Linked DNA regions of Homo sapiens. The protein of the gene in region 1 interacts with the protein of each later gene in a pairwise test. Each region holds a gene or a part of one and is shown on either strand. Other genes may lie near its edges. The genes, in order: CEACAM6, ASPG and CARTPT.

Evidence for each region.
Region 2: the proteins of CEACAM6 (region 1) and ASPG interact in binary tests that used the Homo sapiens proteins (3 or more experiments, as listed by UniProt).
Region 3: the proteins of CEACAM6 (region 1) and CARTPT interact in binary tests that used the Homo sapiens proteins (3 or more experiments, as listed by UniProt).

What each region holds. Positions count from the first base shown.
Region 1 is NC_000019.10:41,763,667-41,773,458, forward strand, and holds the end of CEACAM6 (cell adhesion molecule CEACAM6 preproprotein), read left to right. Parts: intron 1-2,516; coding exon 2,517-2,593; 3' UTR 2,594-2,633; intron 2,634-7,135; coding exon of another isoform or gene 7,136-7,152; 3' UTR 7,153-8,545; downstream 8,546-9,792. UniProt on the Homo sapiens protein: Cell surface glycoprotein that plays a role in cell adhesion and tumor progression. Intercellular adhesion occurs in a calcium- and fibronectin-independent manner.
Region 2 is NC_000014.9:104,080,323-104,090,105, forward strand, and holds the start of ASPG (60 kDa lysophospholipase), read left to right. Parts: upstream 1-5,377; 5' UTR 5,378-5,448; coding exon 5,449-5,530; intron 5,531-9,783. Other genes in the region: uncharacterized protein LOC124903408, read left to right, coding at 531-1,306, 2,538-2,613. UniProt on the Homo sapiens protein: Exhibits lysophospholipase, transacylase, PAF acetylhydrolase and asparaginase activities.
Region 3 is NC_000005.10:71,712,883-71,722,881, forward strand, and holds CARTPT (cocaine- and amphetamine-regulated transcript protein preproprotein), read left to right. Parts: upstream 1-6,392; 5' UTR 6,393-6,411; coding exon 6,412-6,570; intron 6,571-6,997; coding exon 6,998-7,081; intron 7,082-7,625; coding exon 7,626-7,733; 3' UTR 7,734-8,163; downstream 8,164-9,999. UniProt on the Homo sapiens protein: Satiety factor closely associated with the actions of leptin and neuropeptide Y; this anorectic peptide inhibits both normal and starvation-induced feeding and completely blocks the feeding response induced by neuropeptide Y and regulated by leptin in the hypothalamus.

The DNA.
Region 1 (9,792 bases):
CTGCCCTGGGCTCTTAAGGACTTGGGTGGACTGAGGGGTGGGAGATGCCAACTCTGACTGAACGATGCCTGCAGAGGAATCAAAGGTGCCACACACGGCAATCTTCTCTCTGTTTTCTGCACAGCGGAGCTGCCCAAGCCCTCGGTCACCAGCAACAACTCCAACCCTGTAGAGTTTTCTACATATAAGTTTAAGTTATCTGTGAACAGAGATAATTTTACTTCTTTCCGATTTGGATGTCTGTTTATTTGTTTGTTTGCTGCCTAATTTCTCCAGCTAGGACTTAAAACACTATGTTGAAGAGAAGTGGGGCAAGCAGGCATCCTTGTCTTGCTCCTGGTCTTACAGGGAAAGCTTTCAGTCTTTCTCCATTGAGTATCCCTCTATTATGTTGAGGTGGTTTCCTTCCATTCACAGAGTGTTTTTATTTATAAAAGAATGTTGAATTTTGTCAAATGCTTTTATTGGCTAAATCTTATTACTAATTATAGGTCTATTCAGATTTTTTTGTGTGTTCCAGGAATTTGTCCGTTTCATCTAGGTTATCCAATTTGTTGGCATACAATTATTTACCGCACTCTTTTAATCTTTATTATTTCTGTAGAATTGGTAGCAATGTCATCAATTTTTTTGAGAGTAGGTCTCACTCTGTAACCCAACCCAAGCTGGAGTGCAGTGGCTTGATCATAGCTTACTTGCAGGCTGAACCCCCTGGGCTCAAGTGATCCTCCTACCTCAGCCTCCTGAGTAGCTGGGACTACAGGCATATGCCATCATGCCTGGCTAGTTTAAAAAAAAAAAAATGTGGAGACTGTGTCGCCCTATGTTGCATAGGCTGGTCATGACTTTCTGGCCTCAAGCAACCCTCATCCTCTGACCTACCAGGGTGCTGGAATTAAAGGTGTGAGCCACCATGCCCCCATTTTCATTTCTGATTTTAGTAATCTGAATCTTCTCTTTTTTTCTCAGTCAACCTAGTAAATGATTGTCAATTTTGTTGATCTGTTTTGAAGAACCAACTTTTGGTTTCATTGACTCCCTTTATTGTTTTTATAGCCTCCATTTTATTTATTTCAGTTATAATTCTTATTGTTTCCTTCATTCACTATCTTTGGGTTGATTTTGTTCTTTTTCTATATCCTGAATTTGTAAAGTTAGGTTGTTGATTTGAGGTCTCTCTTTAATGTAAGTATTTACCACTATCAATTTCTTGCACAAGATTCTTAACTTCTCTGAGCCTTCAATTCTTCAACTGAAAATTGCAATAATTCTCATCACTAAGAAATGGGTGGAAAAAATGAAAATTGAAATAACAATGCCTGTTTCATAGTATCGTTTTGAAGATTTAATGTAACATTTGATTAAGCCTTCAGCAAAATGCCACACACAAAGAAAAGCTTCACAAATATTAGCTATTATTATTACTACTGTTACCATTAACCTTAAAGTCAGGTAGTCCTAGAGTCAAATTCTAAATCCACTTGTCACTAACCATGTGACTTTGGATAAGTTTTCTCATCACCCTAAGCCTCTGTCTTTTCATCTGTAAAATGGAAATAATGTCTACCCAAGAGAGTTACTGTATAAATCAAATGAGATACAGGTAAAGTATTTAGCACAGGGCCTGGTATCTAGGACATGCCCCTCAACAGTAGCTAACCTAGCATTAACCATCGCACTGAGATGACTGGTGAGGGCTAAGCACCAAATGGAAACTCACTAGGACATGGTTACTGGCTAAACATGGGAGAGAGGAAAAACAGTGCAAAGAATCAAGCCTGGTATGTTAGCTTTCATCCACTGAGATGCAGCCAAGATGGGATTAGAGGTACAAGATAATTCACTGGGTAAAACAGCCATGAGGGAAGGTGGAGCAGCAGTGACAGGAGAGCCTAAGAGAGCCCTCAGACCACGATGCAGATCTCATTCCTGAGAAGGAGAAAGAGAAGGAGGGAAGTTTTACATAGCAGTGCAGTTCTGAGTTTCCCCAAGACCGATGGGGAGTCCTTGAACCCCTCACCCATGAGAGTGAAGCAGGGTCTCACAGACCTGGGCTTGCTTTCTTTCCCCTGGTGGGAGCCCATGGGAAGTGAGTTCTCTGTGCAAAGAACATAGTAAATTCAGAATGCACTAGCCTGGGCCTTCTGTCCATCAAGTCCCTGCCATAGAGCTCCAACAGGCTCTTATTCATGGCTGCCACAATTGAGACACTGAGAAAAAGATGCAAACATAAAAATATAGAAAGTTCTAATGACATGCAAAAATAGCAATCAGACTTTCTCAAATTTTCAAAGCCTTCAAAAATGTCTGAGTGCAGAAAGAACAGGATGAAATTGACAGAAGACTGATCACCAACCTAGAAACGTGGTAAGAGAGAAAAAAAATTGCAACTTTCCCACAAAACTAGTGTATTCCTTGAAGGAACAAGTCAAGCCTACTTCATGTTGACAGCTAGTTCTTGGGGACCCCACTGTAGAATAACATCACCTTCATTCCTTCTCTCTTCTTCCCACAAGGAAGTGCTCCTGTCCTCTCAGCTGTGGCCACCGTCGGCATCACGATTGGAGTGCTGGCCAGGGTGGCTCTGATATAGCAGCCCTGGTGTATTTTCGATATTTCAGGAAGACTGGCAGGTATGATCGCCTTTCCTCTTGCCATGTTTCCTGCAGGGCTGACCACCATGCTTGGGAAAGGAAAAAAACTTCTTCACCTGTATCTGGGACTGGATCTCCTTCTACCGCTAAACTCCTGCTTCTCAGCACTAATTCCTGCAGGTCTCTTCTTCCCTGGTCTTCATGCTCCCTGTACCCCACTGTCTCCTAGATATAATTATCCCCAGCCTCTGCTCATTTGTTTCCTAGAGTCAATACATTGTCAAAGCCTCTTCGTCCTTTTTCAACATCTCTCACTTTTGTCAGTCTCTCCATTCCCATCAACCTCAATAATTGTTCAACATCCTGCTTGACCCCTTGTTGTAAGGTTGGAATCCTTCTTGCATATGACTGCCTCATTACCTTCCTAAAATCTAGTTCACTCACCTACTTAAGGAGCCAAAGGGGGCCAGGCACAGTGGCTTATGCCTGTAATCCCAGCCCCTTGGGAGGCCGAGGTGGGCGGATCATGAGGTCAGGAGATACAGACCATCCTGGATAACACAGTGAAACCCCGTCTCTAGTAAAAATACAAAAAATTATTCAGGCATGGTGGCGAGCACCTGTAGTCCCAGCTACTCGGGAGGCTGAGGCAGGAGAATGGCGTGAACCTGGGAGGTGGAGCTTGCAGTGAGCCGAGATCGTGCCACTGCACTCCAGCCTGGGCGACAGTGCAAGACTCCGTCTCAAAAAAAAAAAAAAAAAAAAGAAGCCAAAGGAACCTGCTCTGGCCTACTAGTTAAGTTCAAATTTCTTCTCTTTACTAATTCTTCTTACTTTCTTTCCCTCTACTTCCCAGTATAATTCCTCCATCTTAATTAGAATCTGACTCTCTACACATCCCTGCCCCTTTACCCCGGATGCACATAGAATTCTTAGTTTCAATGTTACACCTAAAAACAGGGTGATCTCCCCTCCACTACCTGCCCTGTGGACTTACTCACACCCTTCATCACAAGCAACCTCTTATTTCATGGAGAACACAGACTGTGTAGTATTAATATGTGAACTTTGGACACATCCTGCATGTGGCTGAGAACCTTTTCCTGACAATCAATTCATGTGTTCATAACAGATACAGAAATGAAGAAGGCAAGGTCCCTACCCCCAGGGAACATAAAGCCCAAGACAGGAGATAAGACCTGAAAAATAATCATGATACCAAAGTAGAAAGGAGCGAATGCCACAAAAATTCAGATAAATCTGATGGGAAATATAGCTACACATTGGAATCACTCCGAAACATTTTTAAAAACGGATGCTCAAGCCCCAACCATAAATTCTGATCTACTGATCTGGAGTGGGACCCAGGCATTGGTAATTTTTAAGCCTCTCCAGACGCTACTAATGTGTAGCCACGATGGAGGATCCCTGTTCTAATAGGTAGGACTTGGGGCTAAACCCATGGTTTTTAGCTAGGAGGATTAGAATTACCTCTGGAGCTTTTTCAACATACATGGGCCTATACTTTGTTGGCCTAATTCATTAATGGGCTCCACCAAGAACTCAGTAATCTAACTGAGAAACAGAAACTAAAAGGAAAAGCCGCCTTATTTGATATGTTACATTATATGGGAAGCACTGTCAAATGATAAGTGATGCTAAACCTTCTCTAAGTTATATTTATGGTTATGTTATTGATGTGAGTGTTCCAAAAATTATAAGAGATTCCCAGAAATCTAACAGATTATAAGCCATAATGTCATATGCCACAGAAGTAACTAAATGTCTATGGGAGATGCATTCTTTTTTTATTTTTATTTTTATTTATTTTTATTTTTTTTTATTGATCATTCTTGGGTGTTTCTCGCAGAGGGGGATTTGGCAGGGTCATAGGACAATAGTGGAGGGAAGGTCAGCAGATAAACAAGTGAACAAAGAAACAAGTGAACAAAGGTCTCTGGTTTTCCTAGGCAGAGGACCCTGCGGCCTTCCGCAGTGTTTGTGTCCCTGGGTACTTGAGATTAGGGAGTGGTGATGACTCTTAACGAGCATGCTGCCTTCAAGGATCTGTTTAACAAAGCACATCTTGTACCGCCCTTAATCCATTTAACCCTGAGTGGACACAGCACATGTTTCAGAGAGCACAAGTTTGGGGGTAAGGTCACAGTTCAACAGGATCCCAAGGCAGAAGAATTTTTCTTAGTACAGAACAAAATGAAAAGTCTCCCATGTCTACTTCTTTCTACACAGACACGGCAACCATCCGATTTCTCAATCTTTTCCCCACCTTTCCCCCTTTTCTATTCCACAAAACTGCCATTGTCATCATGGCCCGTTCTCAATGAGCTGTTGGGTACACCTCCCAGACGGGGTGGTGGCCAGGCAGAGGGGCTCCTCACTTCCCAGTAGGGGCGGCCGGGCAGAGGCGCCCCTCACCTCCCAGACGGGGCGGCTGGCCGGGCGGGGGGCTGACCCCCCCACCTCCCTCCCGGACGGGGCGGCTGGCCGGGCAGAGGGGCTCCTCACTTCCCAGTAGGGGCGGCCGGGCAGAGGCGCCCCTCACCTGGGAGATGCATTCTTATCATAATGAACTCTCATCAGATGTTTAACCATACTCATTTTCAATCTTTGTCATTCACTGACAATTGTTTTTTGTTTTGTTTTGTTTGGTGGGGGGGTTGTTTTTTGTTTTTGTTTTTGTTTTGAGATGGAGTTTCACTAGTTGCCCAGGCTGAAGTGCAATGGCGTGATTTCGGCTCACCGCAACCTCTGCCTCCTGGGTTCAAGCGATTCTCCTGCCTCAGCCCCCTGCACAGCTGGGATTACAGGCATGCGTCACCATGCCCGGCTAATTTTGTATTTTTAGTAGAGACGGGGTTTCTCCATGGTGATAAGGCTGGTCTCGAACTCCTGACTTCAGGTGATCCACCCGCCTCAGCCTCCCAAAGTGCTCGGATTACAGGCATGAACCACCGCGCCCAGCCCCGACAATTATTTTGATTCTTCCTTCCTTAAAGCATTTGCAATCAGCTACCATCCAAAATTGCTTCTTCATTGAGGATATTTACAGAAAATACTCCGACATGTACTCTTGAATACAAGTTTCTGATAACATTAAAATCATACCATTAGACTATTTAAGAATTTCCAAAATTTTAACAAACTGATAGCTTCATGAAACTGCCAACCAAGAGCAAGCAGAGAATTCATTTCATGAGACTAAAAGATAATAATGAAAATAATATTTTTATGATTTTTTATTTGAAATTTTGTGGATTCTTTGTTTTGTTTCCCAGATTTCAGGAAACATTTTTTCTTTTAAGCTATCTAGAGCTTCAACAATTTTGCGAACAAAAATTGAAACATCTATATTTTCTCCCTACCTGACTGCTCCAGAATTCGGAAATTATTCATGAATATTTATATGTTTATAATAATATCGTTATTTGCACAAAAAATATAGTTATTAATATTAATTGTTATAAAATAATTATTATTGATAAACAATTATTTGATGATCATTATTTAATAATTTATTAATATTTATTAATAAATTAATAATTATTATTTAACGACTAATTGTAATTGTTAATTAATATTAATATTATATAATAAATATAATAGTATAGTTATTTGCTCAATAAAAATCTGCTCCCTTTATAACAGGATACATTTGAAAACACTGGTTATATTACCCAGGCTTTGATTGGGATGTTATATTTGGGAATATACATAGATGAACCCATAGGCACTGCTGGCAAAGTCTGAAGTCGGCCTTGGTTTGGCTTCCTCATGTCAAGAGGTTTCTAAAAGTTTAATCTGAGATTCCTTATAAAAACTTCCTGTAAAACAAACTTGAAAAGACCCCAGGCTGGGCACAGTAGCTCACGTCGATAATCCCAGCACTTTGGGAGGCCGAGGTGGGTGAATCATGAGATCAGGAGTTCAAGACCAGCCTGGCCAACATGGCAAAACCTCGTCTCTGCTAAAAATACAAAAAAAAAAAAAAAAAAAAAGCTAGGTGTGGTGGCGGGCTCCTGTAATCCCAGTTACTCGGGAGGCTGAGGCAGGAGAATCACTTAAACCTGGGAGGTAGAGGCTGCAGTGAGCTGCGCTCCAGCCTGGGAGTGCATACATAGGCCTATACTATTCATGTGCGTACATGGGCCTATACTATTCATGTGCATACATAGGGCTATACATAGGCCTATACTCCTATTCAAGGAGAATCGCTTGAACTTGGGAGGTGGAGGTTGCAGTGAGCTGCACTCCAACCTGGGCAACAGGGCAAGACTCTGTCTCAAAAGGAAAAAAAAAAGACTATGTGGTCACCTGCTACTCTTGTTGCACTTATATAAAGAATGAGGCCAAGTTCGATGAGACTAAACTTATTTGGAAAACAAATATGTCTTACTGGGATTATCTTTGGTAGAAATAAAGATGCCTATGAAGAGAAAAATTATGTTGAAAAAAACTATAGTACACCTGTTATGACATCACAGCTCTGCTTATTGTTTTTTATTTTCATTATCCACCTATAGATTGGACCAGACCCTGAATTCTTCTAGCTCCTCCAATCCCATTTTATCCCATGGAACCACTAAAAACAAGGTCTGCTCTGCTCCTGAAGCCCTATATGCTGGAGATGGACAACTCAATGAAAATTTAAAGGGAAAACCCTCAGGCCTGAGGTGTGTGCCACTCAGAGACTTCACCTAACTAGAGACAGTCAAACTGCAAACCATGGTGAGAAATTGACGACTTCACACTATGGACAGCTTTTCCCAAGATGTCAAAACAAGACTCCTCATCATGATAAGGCTCTTACCCCCTTTTAATTTGTCCTTGCTTATGCCTGCCTCTTTCGCTTGGCAGGATGATGCTGTCATTAGTATTTCACAAGAAGTAGCTTCAGAGGGTAACTTAACAGAGTGTCAGATCTATCTTGTCAATCCCAACGTTTTACATAAAATAAGAGATCCTTTAGTGCACCCAGTGACTGACATTAGCAGCATCTTTAACACAGCCGTGTGTTCAAATGTACAGTGGTCCTTTTCAGAGTTGGACTTCTAGACTCACCTGTTCTCACTCCCTGTTTTAATTCAACCCAGCCATGCAATGCCAAATAATAGAATTGCTCCCTACCAGCTGAACAGGGAGGAGTCTGTGCAGTTTCTGACACTTGTTGTTGAACATGGCTAAATACAATGGGTATCGCTGAGACTAAGTTGTAGAAATTAACAAATGTGCTGCTTGGTTAAAATGGCTACACTCATCTGACTCATTCTTTATTCTATTTTAGTTGGTTTGTATCTTGCCTAAGGTGCGTAGTCCAACTCTTGGTATTACCCTCCTAATAGTCATACTAGTAGTCATACTCCCTGGTGTAGTGTATTCTCTAAAAGCTTTAAATGTCTGCATGCAGCCAGCCATCAAATAGTGAATGGTCTCTCTTTGGCTGGAATTACAAAACTCAGAGAAATGTGTCATCAGGAGAACATCATAACCCATGAAGGATAAAAGCCCCAAATGGTGGTAACTGATAATAGCACTAATGCTTTAAGATTTGGTCACACTCTCACCTAGGTGAGCGCATTGAGCCAGTGGTGCTAAATGCTACATACTCCAACTGAAATGTTAAGGAAGAAGATAGATCCAATTAAAAAAAATTAAAACCAATTTAAAAAAAAAAAGAACACAGGAGATTCCAGTCTACTTGAGTTAGCATAATACAGAAGTCCCCTCTACTTTAACTTTTACAAAAAAGTAACCTGAACTAATCTGATGTTAACCAATGTATTTATTTCTGTGGTTCTGTTTCCTTGTTCCAATTTGACAAAACCCACTGTTCTTGTATTGTATTGCCCAGGGGGAGCTATCACTGTACTTGTAGAGTGGTGCTGCTTTAATTCATAAATCACAAATAAAAGCCAATTAGCTCTATAACTAAATTTGTTGTAATTCTGTCTCTTGATGTGGGTTCACAGCCAGCCACGGCCAGTGGAGTCTCTCAGGCGGCGTCATTCTCACTCCGACCCTCCTGCCTTCCTCTTTCACTTACAAGGGCCCTTCTGAATACACTGAGCTCGCCCAGATTATCCAGAATAACCTCCCATCTCAAGATCCTTAACTTTACTTATTTGCAAAGTATTTTTGCCAAATAATGTAACATGCACATGTTCCAGGGATTAGGATGTGGACATTTTTAGGAGGTCATTATTCTGCCTAACACAAGTAACTTTCATAAACATCACCCACAACAAAAATTTGCTTTGCCTTCCTTCTGTGTCTCACCTTTCTGCCTGAATCACAGGCCAGAGCACAAACTTCAAGGTGAAACACACCAGCTCTGCTGTGAACTGCCTGGATGATCCTGGACCACTCACTTCACCTCCCACAGTCTCTTCTCATTTGCAGCACAAGGATGACACTTACTGCATCAGAAAATGACAGTGCAAGAGTAAATTAAGATACTAAACACAGAGCGTGGTACCTGATGAGCCCTCGGTAAACATTCCTTTCAGTCTCTTCCTTTCAACATCCTGTTTCTTTCACCCTCACCCATCTGCCCTTTCATCTTCTTTCTCTTCAGCAACTTACACAGTCTACCCTACCAGTTAGCAAAGAAGCCAGCTACCCATTCTCTCTTGATTCTGCTGGAATGTTCTTGTGATAGAGCCTGCTATCTACTCAAGAAAGCCCACATTATTTATATGGAGAGGTCTGTTTAGAACAAGAGGTCCTTTTTATGTTCGCATAAAATGTGTACATATGGCCGGGTGCAATGGCTCACGCCTGTAATCCCAGCACTCTGAGAGGCCGAGGCGGGCAGATCACCTGAGGTCAGGAGGTCGAGAACAGCCTGGTCAACATAGTAAAACCCCGTCTCCACTAAAAATACAAAAATTAGCTGGGCGTAGTGGTGGGTGCCTGTAATCCCAGCTACTCGGGAGGCTGAGACAGGAGAATTGCTTGAGCCCAGGAGGCAGAGGTTGCAGTGAGCCAAGATCACGCCACTGCACTCAAGCCTGGGCAACAAAGAGTGAAATTCTGTCTCAAAAAAAAAAAAAAATTTATACCTATGTCCCCTTAACTTACACATACCCATCCCAATTCTGCCCTGTTAATTTATATGTGCACTTCCTTATTCATTCTTCTTTAGTCTTTCTCTTTATACCTTATAATCTAGGATAGCACA
Region 2 (9,783 bases), on another chromosome or scaffold:
GTGGGGACACCACGTGGCTTTGCTTTGCATGTCCCTGATAATTAGTGATGTTGAGCATTTCTCGTATGCTTCTTGGCCAAGTGTATATCATCTTTGGAGAAATGTCTGTTCAAGTCCTTTGCCCTTATTTATTTATGAGACGGGCTCGGTCTATTACCAGGCTGGAGTGCAGTGGTGCGATCATAGCTCATAGAGTGACCCTTCAGTGCTTTCCCACACTCCCCTGGGGTCCAACCTTCTGCCGAAGATGCCCCAGCTCTCTGCAGTTCCCTGCCCAGGCCCCAAGACTCCTTTCCCTGTCGGAAAGTTTCTTAGGCTTCCTCTCTCTGGGGTCCCCACACACCTCTGTTCCCCTCCAGCACACTGGCCCAGGCCGGGCCAGCCTGCTTCAACACAGTGTCAGGAACTCCTGTGGTGTCCACAAGCCCAGTGCCAGCGCTTGCCTGCCGTGGGACGCACTGTGTGCCTCAGGCCCCTCACTCGCCAAATAGGACAGTTATCCTCTGCCTCGGTGTGGTCACAGGGGTGAAATGTGCCTGGATTTGCAGGGTGGCTGCAACAGCGCCTGGCCCATAGGCAGTACCATGAAGACTCACAGTGTAGGGCAACAGACGACGCCTGAGCGGCTGAAGAAGGTGGGCTCCCAGGGCCTCCCTGCCCAGGCCTGCTGCCACGGCCAGAACCCAGGGGGGCACCGTGTACCTCGCCAGTGGCCTCAGCACTGCGCCTTGCCTCCAGGAGTCTTGGCTTGTTTGTGTGGAGCTGGGGACTGGGAGAGCAGAGCTTGTGACCTGAGGCCCCCCAGCCTCAGGGTGGAGGTGACCACCCTGGACCAAGGCCTGCCCCAGTTAGTGGCTGAGGACAGACAGGAGTACGTGTGGCATTCCTGCGGCCCCTTGCTCGGCACCCAGGCACTTCCTCCTGCCCCTCTGCCTCTGGAAGGCCAGCCATGGCATGGCCACGGGGGCCTGCCACCTGGCACCTCCCCAACACAATACATAAATGAGTGGGTGTGGCTGTTCCAAGAAAACTGTGTTTACACACACAGGTGCGCCAGGCCTGGCCGTCGAGCCCTGGTTTGCCGGCCTTTGTTCGAGACCAGTGGTTCCCAAATGTGCACCTGTATCAGCATCACCCAGAGCGGGGTCAGAGTCTGGACTCCTGGGCCCCACGCGGAGTTGTTGTCAGGGGCCTGGGCTTTGCATTTCCACAGGTTCCAGGTGCTGCTGCTGGAGCGGAGGCCACGCTCTGAGCACCCTGCTCTAGAAGAAGAGATGCAGAAAAGACAGGCAGGGCTGCAGAAAAGGTAGGCAGGGCTGTAGGGTGGTCCGGACCACCGGGCACTGTCAAATGGCAGATGTCCCTCCGCTCTGCTCTGGGTGGGGCTGGGGCCGGAGTGGATTTTATAAACACTCTGGGAGGGTCCCACCCAGAACTCTCCTGCGCTGTGTGGAAGGAGGGCCACTGGGGAGGGTGTAGATGGGAAGTGAGAGAGAAGAGGGGACGAGGAGACCCCTGGGTGGCCAAGGAAACACTTTTCTGAACAATCAAAAATAAAGGAGGGGCAGGCAGAACGTGGGGACTTGGCTGGGGCTGCCTAGGTTCCCTGGACTCACCTCCTGGCACTACACTGCCTGGGGAGCCAGGGGGCCAGGAGCCAGGGAGCGACTGGCACACCCCACACCTTCCTAACCCAGCCCCTGGTGGGGAGCCCTTCCTTCAGCAGCAGGCAGCACAGCGATGGCCAAGTGTCCCTCCAGGGGGACAGACGTTTGCCCCTCCACGCCACTCACCCGGGGTGAGGCCGCAGCACCCTCCACCTTGCTCCACCGTGGCCAGCTTCTGGCCTCCCCTCACCAAGCCCCGGGACTTCACGTGAAGATCACTTACTGGCCTTCTCCCCTCGCGGTCCTGGGTTCTCTCCTCCTCCTGGCCTCTGAGGCCAGAATGCTGAGGCTCAGACTAGGGCCTTTGTCTCTGCTGACACCTCGCTGCTGTCACGACTTTGTGGTCCCTGTGCCACTGACTGCAGGACGCGCAGCTGAGTCTCCTTGGACCTGCCCAGGTGGCCCCCAAGCAGGATGTGTCCAACACACCTTGCTTCCCTCTGCCTGGCCCCAGGCCCCACTCTGGCCCCTGCTTTCTCAGTAAGGACATCCCCACTCCGTGGCTGCTCTGGCCAAAGACAGGAGAGTCACCCTTTCTCTTCGGCGCGTACCCCTCAAGCTCCAGCTTGTGCTCCCAGCACTCCCACCTTGCACTTCCCCATCCCCAGCTCCTCCCCACCCTGCCCAAAGCCCTCCTGAACCCATTCTTGTCTCAGTCTCCGCACATAGCAGCCAGAGATTAAAACAAACCAGCCCAACCCTCGGTGGGGCTGGTGTTCACCTTTGGGGTTAAATTGAAAGTCCTTGCGTGGCACCACAGTCACTCAGCGGGCATCCCCTCCCTCTGAGTGCTCTCGCCCCACTGACCTGGGCACTGTGGGGCCATGCTCACTCCTGCCTCGGGCCTCAGCACCTGTCCCTTCCTGGCAGCCTGTCCCGCCTGGCATGCTGGCTTTGCTCCAATGCCAACCCTTCGGAGAGGCCTTCCCTGGCCACCCTGTTGTAAACAGCACTGCCTGTCTCCGTGTTCCCTGAGTGTTCCTCCAGGCACTGTCACTGCCAGACGCTGGTATTTTTGTCTACTATGGCCCCCACCCTGGCTGGTACACTCAGAAGGACGGGCTGCGTCCCCTGTGCCTAGAGAGGCATCTGGCACAGAGCCAGCCTTCAACATATATTGCATGAAAGATTCCGTCCAAGGACGCTGTAGATGTAGGTGGACGCAGACAAAAGCAAAGCAGGACAGTGGATTCGTCCAAAGACCGGCAGTGTCTTCAGGTGAAGCTGCAGCGTCGAGTCCTGGTGCTTGCAAGGTTTCAGCAGCAGAAACCTGATGGGGCTCCTTGCACCTGGGAGAAAAGCCACTCCAGTGAGGATTATTGCCAGTGAAGGCTGCCCTGGCCCCAGACAAGTTTTCCTAGAATTTATGGTAGCAGGCGGGTTGTTAAAGGATGATTCCCGAAAGGGCCAGACATGGTGCTCACAGGGATGCAGGGTGAGCATGCGTCGAAGAGCTTCCCTAGCCCAGGCAGCTGTGAGGACCAGCTCAGAAGAGAAGTCCTGAAACAGACACTTACAGATGAGGAATATTGACATGATTGTGCAAATGGACCTGAAACTGGATTTTCAGGGGGCTGTGATGGGCTGGATTGTCTCCCTTAGATTCTAATGTTCAAGTCCCCCACACCCCAGTGTCTTAGAATGCAACTGTATTTGGAGGTAGACTTTAAAGAGATGGTTGAATTAAAATGAGGCCCCAAATTCAATCTGACTGGTATGTCTATAAAAAGAGAAAGTCTGGACATCTGGAGATACATCAGGGATGCGTGACTGCTCAGAGGAAAGACCCTGTGAGGCACAGCAAGAAGGCACCATCTGCTTGCCCAGGAGACACCAACCTGTGACACCCTGACCTTAGACTTCCACCCCCAAGAACTGTGAGAGGTAGACCTCCTTGCACTGTAAATCACTCGTTCTGTTACTGCAGTCCCAGAAAACTAACACAGACCTTTGCTGGGCAGAATGCCTTTGCTTCTCTGCAGACAAGATTACTTTTGCACTATTGCACTGTTGTTATCAAAATAATTATATGGGGCTGGGCATGGCGGCTCACACCTGTAATCCCAACACTTAGGGAGGCTGAGGTGGGTGGAGTACCTGAGGTCAGGAGTTCAAGACCAGCCTGGCCAACATGGTGAAACCCCGTCTCTACTAAAAATACAAAAAAAAAAAAAGAAAAAAAAATTAGCCTGGTGTGGTGTGCACCTGCAATCCCAGCTATTCGGGGAGGGGGCTGAGACAAGACAATTGCTTGAACCTGGGAGGCACAGGTTGCAGTGAGCCAAGATCTTGCTACTGCCCTCCAGGCAACAGAATAATAATAATTTTTATTATGGAATCAGTGTCAAATGCTGGTGCCTTCTGGGGGCAACACACAGTTTCCCACCAAAGTGCATCAGTGCCCCAGGCAGTCAAGGTGCCAGGAGACGAGGAGGCCGCGGATCTTCTGTCCACCTGGGAGCAAGCCTGCAGCTTGGGACCCTCCTGGGACCCTGCACCCGCCAGTGCCCTGCCCTCCTGGGCTCTCATGGGAGTGAAGGAGGGTGGGCTCTGTAGGAGTTAAAGAAAGAGGAAAGAAACATGAAAAGCGGCTCAACAAAGGCAGGTTTATTTTGGAGAATAAACCTGAAAGGGACTTCTGGCCGATTTTGGTCAGGAGCCATCTCTCCTACAGACTAAGGATCTTTAAGGGTTTAGGAAGTGGGGAGCTTATCGCAGGCTCGGAATGTTTCTATGTGAGGGAAAGTTTATTGCGGGCTTGGAATGTCTCTGGTCGGAGGGGAGGTTATCTCGAGGTTGGCATGTTTCTGATTGGAGATGTTATTTGTGGTTTACGGTCGTGCTGACATTAGCTATTGGGCTGATGTGTTTTGGGCTGGATTTAGGCAGCTTTTTAATCAAAGGGAACCTAAAATGGCGGTGTTTGTCCAAGAAGGCCATACTCCTGCTCTGTCCCGCTCCAGCCCTTGGGGGCCCCTCGGGCTCTTCTCTTGGATGGTGTGTGAATGGGCACATGTGGAGGGGCTGGTCCAGCTCTGCCTGCCTCTGGCCATCCAAAGGAGGGACAGCAGGGCCTGGGCAGCAATGCCGGCCTTGGAGCCCCGGGGCTGTGGAGGCTGCTTGACAGGACACGGAGCCCCCTCTGTGCTCAGGTCGTGGAGGGCCTCGGGCACTACGGTCTGCCAGGCACCACATGTCACAGCTACTCAAACACCCAGGGCCGCCACGGAGGGCCAATGGCCGCAGGATGGCTCAGGACCCGCCCCACCCCTGTCGCTGCCTTTCTGGCTGCCCCCTAGTCCCTGGACAGGCGCTCCCCAGCCCCAAGCAGGCCCCAGCCAATCTCCTGCCCAGGCAGGAGCTCCCCCTGCCGCCCTCACAGACCTCACCTCTTCCTACACGTTTCCAAGGCCGCGCCCCGCCCCGCACCCCGCCAGGCCCCGCCCCGCACCCCGCCAGGCCCCGCCCCGCACCCCGCCAGGCCCCGCCCCGCACCCCGCCAGGCCCCGCCCCCACCCCGCCAGGCCCCGCCTCTCTCTCCGACCCTGGACAGTCCCCGGGACCCACCCCGCCCCCAGGTCCTGCCCCCGCCCGCCTCCGCGGGGCCTCCCACCCTCCCGGGCAGACTCCACTCCCGCCCCCTCCCCGTGGGTGCCCCCGCCGGCCCCGCCCTCCCAGGCTGCCCCCGGCGCCCCGGGCCTCCTCCGCGCAGTCCCTGAGTCCCGCAGGCCCTGCGTCCCCGCTGCACACCCCCGTCCACTCCCGTGGTCCCCGGTCCGGCATGGCGCGCGCGGTGGGGCCCGAGCGGAGGCTGCTGGCCGTCTACACCGGCGGCACCATTGGCATGCGGAGTGAGCTCGGCGGTGAGTCCGAGACCCTGGGCGGGGTAGGCCTCTGGACCTGGCCGCGACCGGGAGCCTCGGACCCTCCTGCACCCACGGGGGTCGTTGGGGAGTCAAATCCGCGCCTGGATGGGGGGTGCGGGCTGAGGTCGCTCTCCTCCGGTTCCGGCCACCGGCGTCCCCACGCATGGAGCCCCGACCTGGACAGAGGAGATTGCGGTGGGTTCTCGCCGTCGCGGTGCTCCCGGGAGCGCCCTGCGACCCTGGGGCCAGGCCCCCTGTGCTGCCGCTGCGCCCCTGAGGGCCAGCGTCCTGAAGTCCTGGAATATGGGGCGGGAGGGCCCCAGGGCATTGGCCTGCCGCTCCTGCTCTGGACACAGAAGGCTTAGGAGGCTGCCCTGGAGAAGGCTTAGGAGGCTGCGAGGACCCCTCAACTGCGACACCCAGGAGGGTGTCCCCGTCCCCTGGGGTCCTGGTCAGGCAGCAGTGGTTGGCACGATACTGGGGCTACCTGGCATCTGCGGGGACGCACGTGTTCACACCCGAGGTGGCCTCAGAGCCCTGCTTCCTCTGCCCCTGTGTGGACCTGGTTGACCAGAGACCAGCGATTGCGTCTGGACTGAGTTCTGCCTGGGTGGGGTCAGGGCCTGGGACAGGCACCGAGCTCTGTGGTACTCCAGCACAGTGCTGCCAGCCTGGGCTGGGCACAGGAAGGATGGTAGCTTGGGGAGCCTGAGGCCACCGGGATGGGGAGAGGACGGTTGCACTGGAGCCTCCAGAATGCCTGGGTGTTCCCCAGGAGGGCAGGACACTGCCTGGGGCCCCCAGATGGGCTCTGCTGTGATGTGGGGCCTCCCTTGGGGCCAGGACAGCCCCCTCGCCCCGTCTTGAACCTGTTTGCGACCCTCCATGGGCCACTGCCTGCCTTTCCCTCAGGAGCCCTTTCCACTCCTCCTCCTCCCACTCCCTGCTGCCCTGGCCCCTCCCCACACTCCTGCTTGTGTCCAGCGCAGCTCTCTCTCCTGGGACGGCTGGGACCCTCTCCGGCTCTGCCAGAGCCCAGGGCCTCCCCTGGCATGACCAGAACATTCTCTTGTCCCTTGCCCATCTGCCAACCACTTCCCCGCCCCTCCTATCCCCACCCCCTCTCACGGCCTGTTCCCTGGCAGCTGCCCCTCCTGGCCACCCCTTTCTGCTGAAGTGGCTGCTCAGAAGCCACCAGCACTCTGTCGGTGCTCTCAGATTCCACCCACCACACTGTGGCCGGTGCAGACCCCTCTGGAGGCCCACTCTGCGCCCAGCCCAGGAGACAAAGCCTAGTGGGGCTCGTCCACGAGGGACTCAGGTCCCCAAGAACGTGGCTGTCCAGGCTGCCGGGAGCCTCCTCTGCACTTCTCCTTCTGCCTGTGAATGGAACAAAGTCATTCACAGCTTGGCAAACGCCCCTGTGTGACACTCCACTGACACAGAGTGACACAATTCCTGTGCTTGGCCCTCACAAGCTAGAGAGAGAGGCTGCCATTGAAGGGATGGCATGCATTAAGGAGCTAGTCCCAGGGGCAGGATCTGCCAGGGCCCTGTAGGGGCTGTGGGCTGATAACAGGGTCTGAGCTGGGTGTGTGGATGGTGTGGAGTTTGGAGGCAGCCCAGGGAGGGCTTCTCTGAGGACACAAGGCCTGCAGGACAAAGATGGGAGAGGGCCAGGCCAGGAGCAGCCCTGCAAGGTGCAGGAAAGAGGAGTGGGGAGCCCAGCAGGGCCGGAGCCTGCCAGAGCTGCCCCCGAGTGGGGACAGGACCTGGGGACTCTGTGTGGGGCCTCGTCCGACGCCCCTGACGCTACCCCTTCAGGCTTGGAGTGTGGCCAACTGCAGTTTCGTTGAGCTCAACATGTAGTTCTTGAGTGGTCCGAGCTGCAGGGGCAGGTGGACTCTGTAACCCCACCACACACCCGTCTCGCTTGGCCCCCGCGTGCTCGCCGCAGCAGCCTGTGGGTGCACTCACACGCGTGCACCGCATTTCTGAAAGAGGCTGTGAGGTCCTGTGTCTGGGTGGGAAACAAGAGACTTGGAGGCTGGAAATTGGGTGTGGGGCGTCAGTCTTCAGACCTGAAGCAGCCTTCTGAGATCCCTTGGTGCTCTGTGCACTGGGGTCCTGGCTTCTGCTCAGCAGCCCGTCCTCGTGTGGCTGCGAGGTCACCCCCAGCTGTTGCTAGCTGACCCATGTGGGGCATCCACTTCCAGGAACCTGCAGGAATGGGCTCCCCCAACCCCTCGTGAGGTTGGAGCAGCCAGACTGTCAGGCGTCAATGATTTACTCCCTCCACACTGCTGACGTGGGCTCTGGCCTTCCCTGGGGAGGTGAGAGGGGAGTGGTGGCTTTGCCCTAGTAAAGCTGTTTGATTGTCGCTGTTGGAACGGCTTCTGCGCCTGCTGGTAAACAGTGACCTGTGGGTGGAACGCTGCACACCTGGAGCCCTGCCAGAGTTCAGGGAGGGCAGAGGTGATGCCAGTGGGGACGCCCCTTGACCCATCCCTTCTCTGAGTTCATTGAAGCTATCACAGGTCAAGGGGCATAGCGAATCCAAACACGGCTGATAACCCCAAGCCCAAGCTGGCATCAGTGGCCACGTTCTGTACACCCGAGAAACTTGAAGACTTCCTATGTCAAACTGGGAACCCCACCTGCTTGCCGGCCTGTCCCAAAGTCCCTCCTGAGCCCGGCTCCTTGCAGGCACAGCAGGGAGGGCAGAGATCTGGGGCCAGGCAGCTGAGAGAAGCTCCCTGCCCGGTGACCACACGGGTCCCAGCAGTCGAGAGTGTCAGTGGAGTGATGCCCATGGCTTCTTGGTTACTGCAGTGGCGTCTGTGCCCTTGGCCTGGACCTCCTTCCTGAATGGGTGCTACACGTTCACAAGTTTCTAAGCCTAAGCTTGACTTCGCTGGTGACAGTGGGGCCCATTGTCTTAGAGAGCAAAGCCTCCTTTCCAGGTGTTTGGCAGGGGGCTGAGGAGTTTCCAAGTCACCAGCAAACTCAGGCACCTGCCTGGATGGGCCAAGGAAGAGGTTCCAGGCAGGGCTGGAGGGTTCAGATTCTGCAGCCCTTGAAGCTTTTGGAGGGCCCTCATTGAGAAAAGTAATACAAGTTACAAAATCATAGTTAGGTGTGAAAGCCGGTGTTTGTTTATTTTTTATTTATTTTTATTTTTTTGAGATGGAGTCTCACTCTGTCGCCCAGACTGGAGTGCAGTGGCGCGATCTCAGCTCACTGCAAGCTCTGCCTCCCGGGTTCACACCATTCTCCTGCCTCAGCCTCCCGAGTAGCTGGGACTACAGGCGCCCGCCACCGTGCCCGGCTGAAAGCTGGTGTTTATTTAAAATAACAAAAGAAATTGCCCCAGCTGACTGGGCGCGGTGGCTCACACCTGTAATCCCAGCACTTTGGGAGGCTGAGGTGGGTGGATCACTTGAGATCGGGAGTTCAAGACCAGCCATGGACAACATGGTGAAACCCTGTCTCTACTAAAAATACAAAAAAAAAATTAGCCAGATGTGGTGGCAGATGCCTGTGGTCCCAGCTACTGGGGAGGCTGAGGCATGAGAATCGCTTGAACCCAGGAGGTGGAGGTTGCAGTGAGCCGAGATCTCGCCACTGCACTCCAGCCTGAGTGACAGAGTGAGACCCTGTCTCAAACAAACAAAAAAAACTGATGCCACTACATACCTGTTAGAATGGCTGCTGACGTACAACACATTGACTGCGGGGTGAGTGCTGGAGCCCCAGAGTTGGAAAGTGGTCCACTCGCAGGTTGGTAAGAAAACTTTACTGGCGACAGTATAGGTTTGAAAAAGGAACGTTTGGCCAGACATGGTGGCTCAGGCCTGTAATTCCAACACTTTGGGAGGCCAAGGCGGGTGGTTCACTTGCCTTGCTAACATGGCGAAACCCCGTCTCTACTAAAAATAAAAAATTAGCTAGGTGTGGTGGTGCATGCCTGTAATCCCGGCTACTCGGGAGGCTAAGGCAGGAGAATTGCTTGAGCCGGGTGGGTGGAGGTTGCAGTGAGTCGAGATGGCATCACTGTACTCCAGCCTGGGCAACAGAGTGAGACTCTGCCTCAAAAAAAAAAAAAAAAAAAAAAAAAAAGGAAGAAAGGAGAAGAAAAAGAAAAAAGAAAGAAATTGGCCAGGCTGGTTTTGAACTCCTGGGCTCAAATGATCTTCCTGCATCAGCCTCCCAAAATTCTGGGATTACAGGTGTGAGCCATAAAAACCACT
Region 3 (9,999 bases), on another chromosome or scaffold:
ACACGTGTGCATGTGTCTTTACAGTAGAATAATACTTTGGGTATATACCCAGTAATGGAATTGCTGGGTCAAATGGTATTTCTGGTTCTAGATCCTTGAGGAATTGCCACACTGTCTTCCATAATGGTTGAACTAATTTACATAAAGCTCCATCTTAGCAGACTGCACTTAAACAGTCACCTTTTGTCCTTAATGAAGTGGCCATATTGAGGGAACTCAGGTGGTAAAGAATGAAGGGTGGCTTCTAAAAACTATGAGTTGCCTCTTTAAAACCTGAGGGTGGCCTGCAGCCAACAGCTAGCAAGAGGTGGGGGCCTTTAATCATACATCCACAAGGAAATAAATTCTGCCGATAGGAAGCATGAGGTTTTTAGATGTTCAAGGTATGGTAAAGACATTCGAGGACTAGGAAAGGGCATGAACAAAGGCAGACACATGTGTAGTCATTAGTGTTGTTCCATAATGTTTGCATTCTAGGTACTTGTTAACACTGTAATTCTTAGTCCTTTTGACTTTGGTGGAGCTGTGTGATTACTTCAGGCTAATGAGTTGGAAGGAAAAGTGAAGTATCACTTATGAGTCAAAGCTTTTAGTTGTTCATTAAAGACTGTCCAGAACTCTTTTTTCCATTTGGAACAAAATTAGCCACTTTAGAGATGGTGGATGATCTGTCAGTCTGGGTCCCTGAGTGACGATGAATAGAACAAACTCTTTTTTCCATTTGGAACAAAATTAGCCACTTTAGAGATGGTAGATGGTCTGTCAGTCTGGATCCCTGAGTGACGATGAATAGAACACTCCATCAATTCTTGATGCACATGGGACACGAGTGAGAAATATAACTGCATATTTTTTAAGTCACCAAGATTTGGGAGTTGTTTGTTGTAGCAGCATAACCTAGTAAATTCGGTGCAAAATTAAGAAATAAGGCTGATGTACCTACAAAGTAAAATATATCTGATGGAACTGGTTGGGAGCAGAGAAAAATGAGATTAGAAATATGGCCAGAGCCATATTATAAGAAACTTCAACACCATGCTGAGAAGTTGACTTGAACCTATAGACAATGAACAATCACTGAATGATTCAAAATTGCTCCCTATTAAGTCATATAGTTAATTTCTTGGGTATTCTAATCAGCTGCTTTAGTGCTAGTTTTACACTTTCTGTAAGCTTAGGAGATCTGGATCTGGAAAAGTTAGAGGAGAAGATGGTGTTAGCGGTGGCATGTAAAGTGTGGTTTTGGCATGCCACCCCTGCCGCACTCCAACAAGGTGTGCTGTGCTGGGATCCAGATAAATGTTTCCTTGTCCTAGGAAACAATCTATCTCTTGGTCAGTGCTATCTCCCTATATCTGAAAAGGACCACTTTTCTCAGGCTAGACCTTTAGGTTAAAAGCTTGTTTTTAGTATTTGAAAAATGAAATCTTTTGGGTTCATCTGTGCTCCTACCACCTGTTTATTGGATCCAAATTTGGAACTATCTATTGCCACTCTGGATTTTCTTTTTGTGCTCCAAAGTTCCTTTTCAGGCTTGTTTCCCATTATGCTTCCCCGTCTCTCACATTCCCATGCACCCTGCTCTCCAGCAACCCAGAGCACTCAGTGCTCCCCAGATCTCCTACCTTGATGACTTGACTTTGCTGCCTGCCCGCCCCCAAGGTCCCAGAGTGGGATGTTTGCTATTGTTGGAATTCTACCCATCCCCTAGGACTCAGTAGCTCATTCAAAGGATGCCCCTTTTTCACGAAGATTCCCTCTTGTGGCAATGAATCTCTGACTTCTCTGGGCTCCTCTTTCTCTAGTAGGACCCTCATCTCACTAAGTCATTGTATTTTAGGAGTTTGTGGACGTGGGCACAAATGACTAGACCCAAAGATCCTCAAGGCAAGAAGTGTCTGGATTATCTCAGCAGTCCTCAAAATACTTAGCAGAGTTGTGAGCATATAGGGCACCCAGATTTTAAAATTAAGTCTTGAAATGGAAAGCTTTTCAATTGGAAGCTTAAAAAATTGACTGAAAAGCTTTGTTTAATTTCGCCTGCTTTGCTCCTTCAGAAGCAGTCTGTAAAGCACATGTTCTTTGCTACTGCATCTCCACCCCTCCCAATTTAGAACCGACTCCAAGTGTCCTTTACTTACAGATTATTTTCTTTCAGATAGTGATAAAGATGTTTAGTTAGAACACAGTGAATAGCAGTTCCTTTGGAAGGCTATGGCTTGGAAGTAAACAGAACATAAATGTCAATGGGAATTAATCTCTCTTCTGCAGGGAGGAAGAGTGGAGAGCAAACAATGTAGAAATGAAAAAAAGTCACCCAAGAGATTGCATATGTGTACCAAAGAGAACAGAGTGATGTTTAACTTGGAGGAAAGTGCAACTAACACAAATAAGGAGAAACAGTCTTAAATATGAATATTTAGGAAGTCAATAAAACTGAGGACTTACCAAAATTTAAATTGAAATTTTAAATTTTTATTTTATTTTTGTCACAGGGGCTCACTTTGTCACCCAAGCTGGAGTGCAGTGGTGGTGTGATCATGGCTCATTGCAACCTCAACTTCTTGAGCCCAATTAATCCTCCTACCTCAGCCTCCTGAGTAGCTGGGACTACAGGCATGTGCCACCACTTCTGACTAATTTTTTTTTTCTTTTCTTTTTTTTTTTCTTTTGTAGATATGTGGTTTCACCATGTTGACCAGACTGTTTTTTTGTTTTGTTTTGTTTTGTTTTGTTTTTGAGACAGAGCCTCGCTTTGTCACCTAGGCTGGAGTGTAGTGGTGTGATCTCAGCTCACTGCAATCTCTGCCCTGCTGGGTTCAAGTAATTCTCCTGCCTCAGCCTCCCAAGTAGCTGGGATTACAGGTGCATGCCACCACACCTGGCTAATTTGTGTATTTTTAGTAGAGATGGGGTTTTGCCATGTTGGCCAGGCTGATCTCAAACTCCTGACCTCAGGTGATCCACCTGCCTTGGCCTCCCAAAGTGCTGGGATTACGGGCGTGAGCCATTGTGCCCAGCCAGACCAGACTGGTCTTGAACTTTTGAGCTCAAATAATCCTCTTGCCTCGGCCTTCCAAAGTGTTAGGATTACAGGTGTAAGCCACTGCACCTCGCTGAAATTGAGGATGTTTTACTGTTGAACAAGACTTGGTTGGGGTGAGGGATGGGAGAGGAGGGTTAATGGTTAACAAAGTAGTCTGATATTTGGGAAATACGACAACCTAAGAGGCCAGTGTTATTCTGAGTTACATAGGAACAGAAATTATTCACAACTGAAGGAGAAAGGAAGGGAGAGAGAAATACTAAAGCTTAGGAAAAAACATCACTGTGGTGTTAAATTCTGCCATGACCTTCTCATTACTTAAAATCTTAGGGCTCTAGGGTTCTAATTTAGTAATATTGAACACATATGTTTTAAGGGGTGTGTGTGTGTGTTTTCTTTTTTCCAAGAACAATACAGACATCGTTTTCTTGCCAAGTCACAAATCAATTGATGGGTTATTTTTATAGTGAAAAGTTCAGGACTCCAAGAGTTAGGCATGAGTAAGAAGAGGTTTTTAAAATGTTCTCAGATAGCAGTATGTTGTAAGTAGATCTTGCTGGCACTGGTTTCTTGGCTGTCTGCTTATGAGATTTCTTTACTTGAGCTATTTCAAAGAGCAGGACTGGAGGCCTACTCTATCTCAGAAAAGATGATTAAGAGAGATTTGTTCACATTAAATCTCCAAAGACCCATCCTGGCCATTGCTTCTCTTTCATGAGGTGACCTGCCTCCCTTTTCTATATCTGGGGTGAGAAGTAGTAGTTAAATTCCATATGATTTTAATTGCTTGGGGCATCAGTGATGGGCTTTTTTCCCCTAATGGAGTCATTACAAAGTAGTAAGAATATACAAATTCTCCTAACAGGGCATAATATGAAGACTGTGGAATGTCTCATGCTTTTGTTTCTTTTTGAGTTTTAACTTACATAAAAGTTGTCTTTGGGAAGAAGATAGCCTAGAATTTACTATACCATGCTAGCTAAAGACAGTTTATAAAGTCATTCTGTTCAAGATGAAGAAAAGCCTGTGGTATGTAAGTGACAAAGATGCCCCTGGCTTGTTTCACAGGATTTTCCAAGAGTCCTTTCCCTAACCCCTTAACTAAATGTGCCTTCCTTATAAGAAAATGATAGCACCAACTCAAGTTCAGCAAGATTTAAACTTTGGATTTTTTTCCAATAGAAGTAGCACAAAGGGAAAGTTATTACTTGTGTCTGGGTAGAACAAAATTGGAGAGAAAGTATTGCATTGACAATATCTACATCCTTCAGGAAGAATAGGCTAAAATCTTATTTGAGATTATTTTTCTTCTGAAGCTTAGAATAGTTTAAAGATCACTGGAGATGGTTTTTGCAGTGAGTGTCAATATGTCTCTGTAAGGTTTTAACAGTAAAACGTGCTGCCACTGAAGTTTTCTTGTGCAGAATCAAAAGGTATGTGTGGAAGGCAGAGCTGAGGGAGGTGTTAGATACATTTTCAAGTTGGGTTTACCCCACAGCAAAATATTTTGATGCTGTTAATATGTGTGCTATTCATTAGAAGAGATATCACTTCTTGAATTGCTTCCCAGTGAGTATTTGAGTACCAATTAAATACTTGATAGTTGAAGTAACCAGGCATATATTGTGTATTAAACTATCTTAATGACCCACATAATCTGCTATGCAATAAATTTGTGGGAGAAAAGTATTGATAGATGGTTTGGATTGAGTAGTCATAGATATTTACACTGAGATTTAAATAACAGAAGTAGTGAGCCTTTTGGAAATACAGGAAGACCTTTCAAGGAGGGGTAAGTGCAAAGACATCAAAGTATGAATGAGATTGGCCTGCTAGAGGACCAGAAAGAAGGCCATGTGAGGTTGGAGTGGAGGAGTCTGGGGCAGAGTGGTAGAACATGAGGTGGAGAGGGGTGAAGATCATATAATGCTTTGCAAGTCAGGATGAGGAATCTAGATTCAGTGCTTAGTAAGATTAGGAGTCATTAGTGTATTTTAAGGGGAAAAATACTCTGGTTGGTGGTGAACTATGGAGTAGAGGAAGGCAAGAGAAGATAGGGTGGGGATTAAGTGGTAGACATTAAGTTGACTGGGGCAGCTGTCTAGGACTGGGTTGTAGTAATGGGGATGGAGAAGAGTGGATGAATTTAGGAACAGTTGAGGGAAAGATGGTGTGGTGAAGGAAGCCAGGTGAGCAAGCAGGTCTAAGCGGGAAAGCATTGCTTTTCCTACAGGAATTTTCCTGTGCATTCAGGCTGTAAGGATCTCAACTTTTAAAAAAGCCACATTGTTCTCCCAAGTTGTTGGGGAGCTGGTTCACCATTGACTTCTGATCTCTGGAGATATTTTCATAATCATGGAGCTGTCTTTCTTTTCACTCTTTTACTCTCTTTCTAGACAGGCTTCTTGGATACCAAGGGTTGGTGGTGGGTGGGGGGAGGTTCTGGGGATGGTTAAATTTGCCTGGGCAGCCTCAAAGTTCAAAAAGGAGGGACAGGGAAGCTTAGCTAAGAACCAGGAGTTTGACATACTTAATCTCTCATTTCATCCTACTGATGACTTTGTGAGGTATATCTTTTTAATCCTAGATCTACAAAAGAGAAAGCTGAGGCTTGGAGAGGTTCTTCATTTTGTTCAAAGTCATACAACTTTTACGTGGTGTAGCCAGGATGGGAACCAGAGCCTGGCTCTCTGCACTTCCAACACCACTGCTGAATCCGGGTTTGTCTGTTTTCCCTCTCTTCTTTTAACTATTGTCACACAGATTCCATCATAGAACCCATCACGTGGAGGGCCACTATTTCTCTTTCTTTTGTATAGTATGTTTGCTTCCCCTACCCCACAGAGTAAGGTGCTCAGCAAATGTGGCTGTCTGGAGGCAACACCCCCTTCTCACCGCCACACTTGGGGTTGGGGTGCGAGGCAAGGCAGGGCTGGCGAGGTGGATGTTGCAGCTGTCACCACTGCTAGGTGTTGGGAAACGACTCTCCTGCCTGTGCATTGACCCGAAGGCATTTTCCATTTCCTAGGCCCCTCCCGCTTCCCGTCCCTCACCTCTAGCCCCTCGGCTTCAGCTCAGGCCCCTCGGGGAGCATCCCTTGCCGTGAGACTGACAGCCTTTGGGGGCGCAGGGTCCTGTTCTCTGCGCTCTAGCCCATCTGTGCGCAGAGCCTCGTTCCCAGGCGCCTGGAACCCGGCGGGCATTGACGTCAAGCGCCGGCGGAGCGCTGCCTACAGACGGTTGACCCGGGCCCTCCTCCACACCCCCTTCCTTCTTCGCCTCCTCCCTCTTTCCTGCACGGGGGCTCGGGCTCACTATAAAAGGTGGGAGCGCGTGGTGCCCCAGCAACGACGAGTTTCAGAACGATGGAGAGCTCCCGCGTGAGGCTGCTGCCCCTCCTGGGCGCCGCCCTGCTGCTGATGCTACCTCTGTTGGGTACCCGTGCCCAGGAGGACGCCGAGCTCCAGCCCCGAGCCCTGGACATCTACTCTGCCGTGGATGATGCCTCCCACGAGAAGGAGCTGGTCGGTATTCCCCTCGCTCTCGACCCCCTTGAGCTGTCGCCTTGTCTCTTCTCTTGCACGCCTCCCTCCTCCCCCCACCCCCACTCCTATTCCCAGAGTCAGGGCGCGGGGAGCTGAGCGCAACGCCCAGGCACCCACTGCCATCCGAAGAGCGTCTCGAGCTCACGGGCTCCTGGCAGTCTGTTGAGCGAATCCCTCATCCCGGCCCCTCTGAGCAACAGGGACCCCAGCGGCTCAGAGACCCGCGGTCAGTACCTGGGACAGCGTCCGCTAAGTTTCCACCCCTCGACCATTCCCTGTGTCCGCGGAGTCCCACCGCAGAGTGCGTGTGGGTCCGGGGCTCCTTATAACTAGGGCTGGAAGTGCGCACCTGGGCTGGGCTCGCAGCCAAGGCGGCAACTTCAGGCTCCGAAGCGGTGTGTTGCAGATCGAAGCGCTGCAAGAAGTCTTGAAGAAGCTCAAGAGTAAACGTGTTCCCATCTATGAGAAGAAGTATGGCCAAGTCCCCATGGTAAGGTTTGTGGTCACTCCCTTCCCGTGTTTTTCCAAGAGAAAGTACACCGCCTTGAATCGTACACACAGTCTTCTCCGTAGGATGTGGCTAAATAACTTAGGTAATGGGCTTGCAGGATTCTGTGGGCTCCTTCTTCCTTCCCGGGTGAGGAAATGGGAAAGCAGGAACAGGGGTTGTAAGAAAGTGTAAGTCTATTGTTTGTTGCTCAGGAAAAAGGTCTGATTTTTTTCCCCTCTGAGAGGGCAAGAAAAGGAGCCAGGAAATGTGATGCTCCCCTTCCCACGCCCCCCAACCCTCGCCACTTAAAGGTGGAAGAAACTAGGATAAAACTAATAATGTAAGTTTCTTTAAAAAATGTACTCTCACTGAGGTTATAAGCACAAGGCTCCCTGTTTCAGATCTGACTGTACGTAGACCTCTTGTGATGGTGATGGGGTCCAATTGCCCCTTTCAAGAGACAGAAATTGCGTTGACTGTGAGACTTGCCTGTTGGGAACCTGGGTTTGTTCATACTCGATGACCACACATTTTGTTGTTTCAGTGTGACGCCGGTGAGCAGTGTGCAGTGAGGAAAGGGGCAAGGATCGGGAAGCTGTGTGACTGTCCCCGAGGAACCTCCTGCAATTCCTTCCTCCTGAAGTGCTTATGAAGGGGCGTCCATTCTCCTCCATACATCCCCATCCCTCTACTTTCCCCAGAGGACCACACCTTCCTCCCTGGAGTTTGGCTTAAGCAACAGATAAAGTTTTTATTTTCCTCTGAAGGGAAAGGGCTCTTTTCCTGCTGTTTCAAAAATAAAAGAACACATTAGATGTTACTGTGTGAAGAATAATGCCTTGTATGGTGTTGATACGTGTGTGAAGTATTCTTATTTTATTTGTCTGACAAACTCTTGTGTACCTTTGTGTAAAGAAGGGAAGCTTTGTTTGAAAATTGTATTTTTGTATGTGGCATGGCAGAATGAAAATTAGATCTAGCTAATCTCGGTAGATGTCATTACAACCTGGAAAATAAATCACCCTAAGTGACACAAATTGAAGCATGTACAAATTATACATAATAAAGTGTTTTTAATAATTGCCCATAGTGCACTGCTGTTTTCATATAAGTAATTTAAGTGGAAATGGTGAGATTAATCATGCTGTTGTTTTCAAAGAAAAATATTTTAAAAATAGCAGCCTATTGGGAAAATGGCACCTTAGCTCCAAGGAGTTTTGATCGTTAATTAGAAGTTTGCCAAGCCAGTTTTAGTATACTCTATTTTTCTTTGATTGCAGCGATGTGGTGTGTGTATGTGTGTGTGTATGTGTGTGTGTGTGTGTGTGTGAGAGAGAGAGAGAGAAAGAGAGAGATGAATGAGATGGAGATGGTTGGAGTTGAGGTTATATAATTTTGTTTATTAAAACCTTTAGCCAGACCCTTTACTTTAAACAGTGAGACCAATAAACTATAAACAGTTTCATGTTTTAGTCACATTAAAAGCAATTTGAAAAATTAGAAATTTTGTTTTGACAACTCCCTTATTAGAAAATATACATTGATTTAAAGATATGGGCTGTTTAGGGTTGTTATTTGTCTAAAGACTCCAAGGTTATAAGACCCATTCATTCCCACAAGTAAATTCACACTCTTGGAAAAAATTCTCTATTCCAGGAGAAAGAGTCATTTCAGAAAATAGTTTTGAGGGGAACAAATAAAAATTGGAGGAGGTGAGAATTCAACTCAAGAAATTAAAACATATTAAATGTAAAGTTAAGTAGCTTTTAAATATTTCTGAGTGCTTATTTGAGGTCACATTTCCAAGGGTTTAAACCAGACTAAGTAACATCTAAGTAGCAGCATCATGAGAGAAATAAATGTTAACAGCTTCCTAATCCAAACTCAAGAGGCACTTGCATAATAGCAGAATTGAAAAATAAAGCCCCTCCACGGATTCATAGGGAGTTTTCTGATAGAAAATATTCTTATACACAGTTACCATTTTCAGTGTGATTATTATTATTAGCATGCCTAATCTTGCAAGATAGATATTATTACTATTTTTCAGAGTAGAAAACAGAGGGCAAGAGAATTATGGAATTTGCTTACACCATATAATCCTAAATAATAATTTTAGCTGTAATCCCTTTGACTCCAAAGATTTGTCCTTTTTCTCCATGTCACTTAGGCAATCAACAGACTGGGCTTTGAATTCCCCAGAAAGCACATCTTTCCTTAATAAAAATTGCTCACTGGGGGCCAAGGTGTATTTTTTGGGGCTGTGTTTCCGTTTGAATTCCCCTACACAAGCCTATATGTGATTAGAATGTGGTATTTTTGTTTGTTTCTTTTCTTTTCTTTTCTTTTTTTTTTTTTTTTTGAGACAGGGTCTCACTCTGTCACCCAGGCTGAAGTGCAGTGGCACAATTACGGCTCACTGCAGCTTCGATCTCCCAGGCTCAAGTGATCCTCCCACCTCAGGCTTCTAAGTAGCTTGGACCACAAGCATGCACCACCATGCCTGGCTAACTTTTGTATTTTTAGTAGAGACGGAGCTTCGCCATGTTGTCCAGGCTGATCTCAAACTCCTGGGCTTAAGCGATCTGCCCACCTTGGCCTCCCAAAGTGCTGGGATTACAGGCGCGACACACGTCGCCCAGGCAGAATGGGATATGTTTTAATTTTTAATAAGTGCAAGTAGTTATTTAATAGTTTCACAGTCTGCTACTTTTCCAGAAATCATTTCAGTTAGAATATTCTTGAGCCCCTTAACTATTCCTATCTATCACTCCTAAATAAGTCAGATCAGGAAATTGCTTTAGTGAACAGGCAGTACCGTCAGGGCTAACACACAGAACTGCTTTCTCTCCTTATTATTTTTTTTAGAGACAAGGTCTCACTCTGTTGCCTAGGCTGGAGTGCAGTGGTGCCATCCT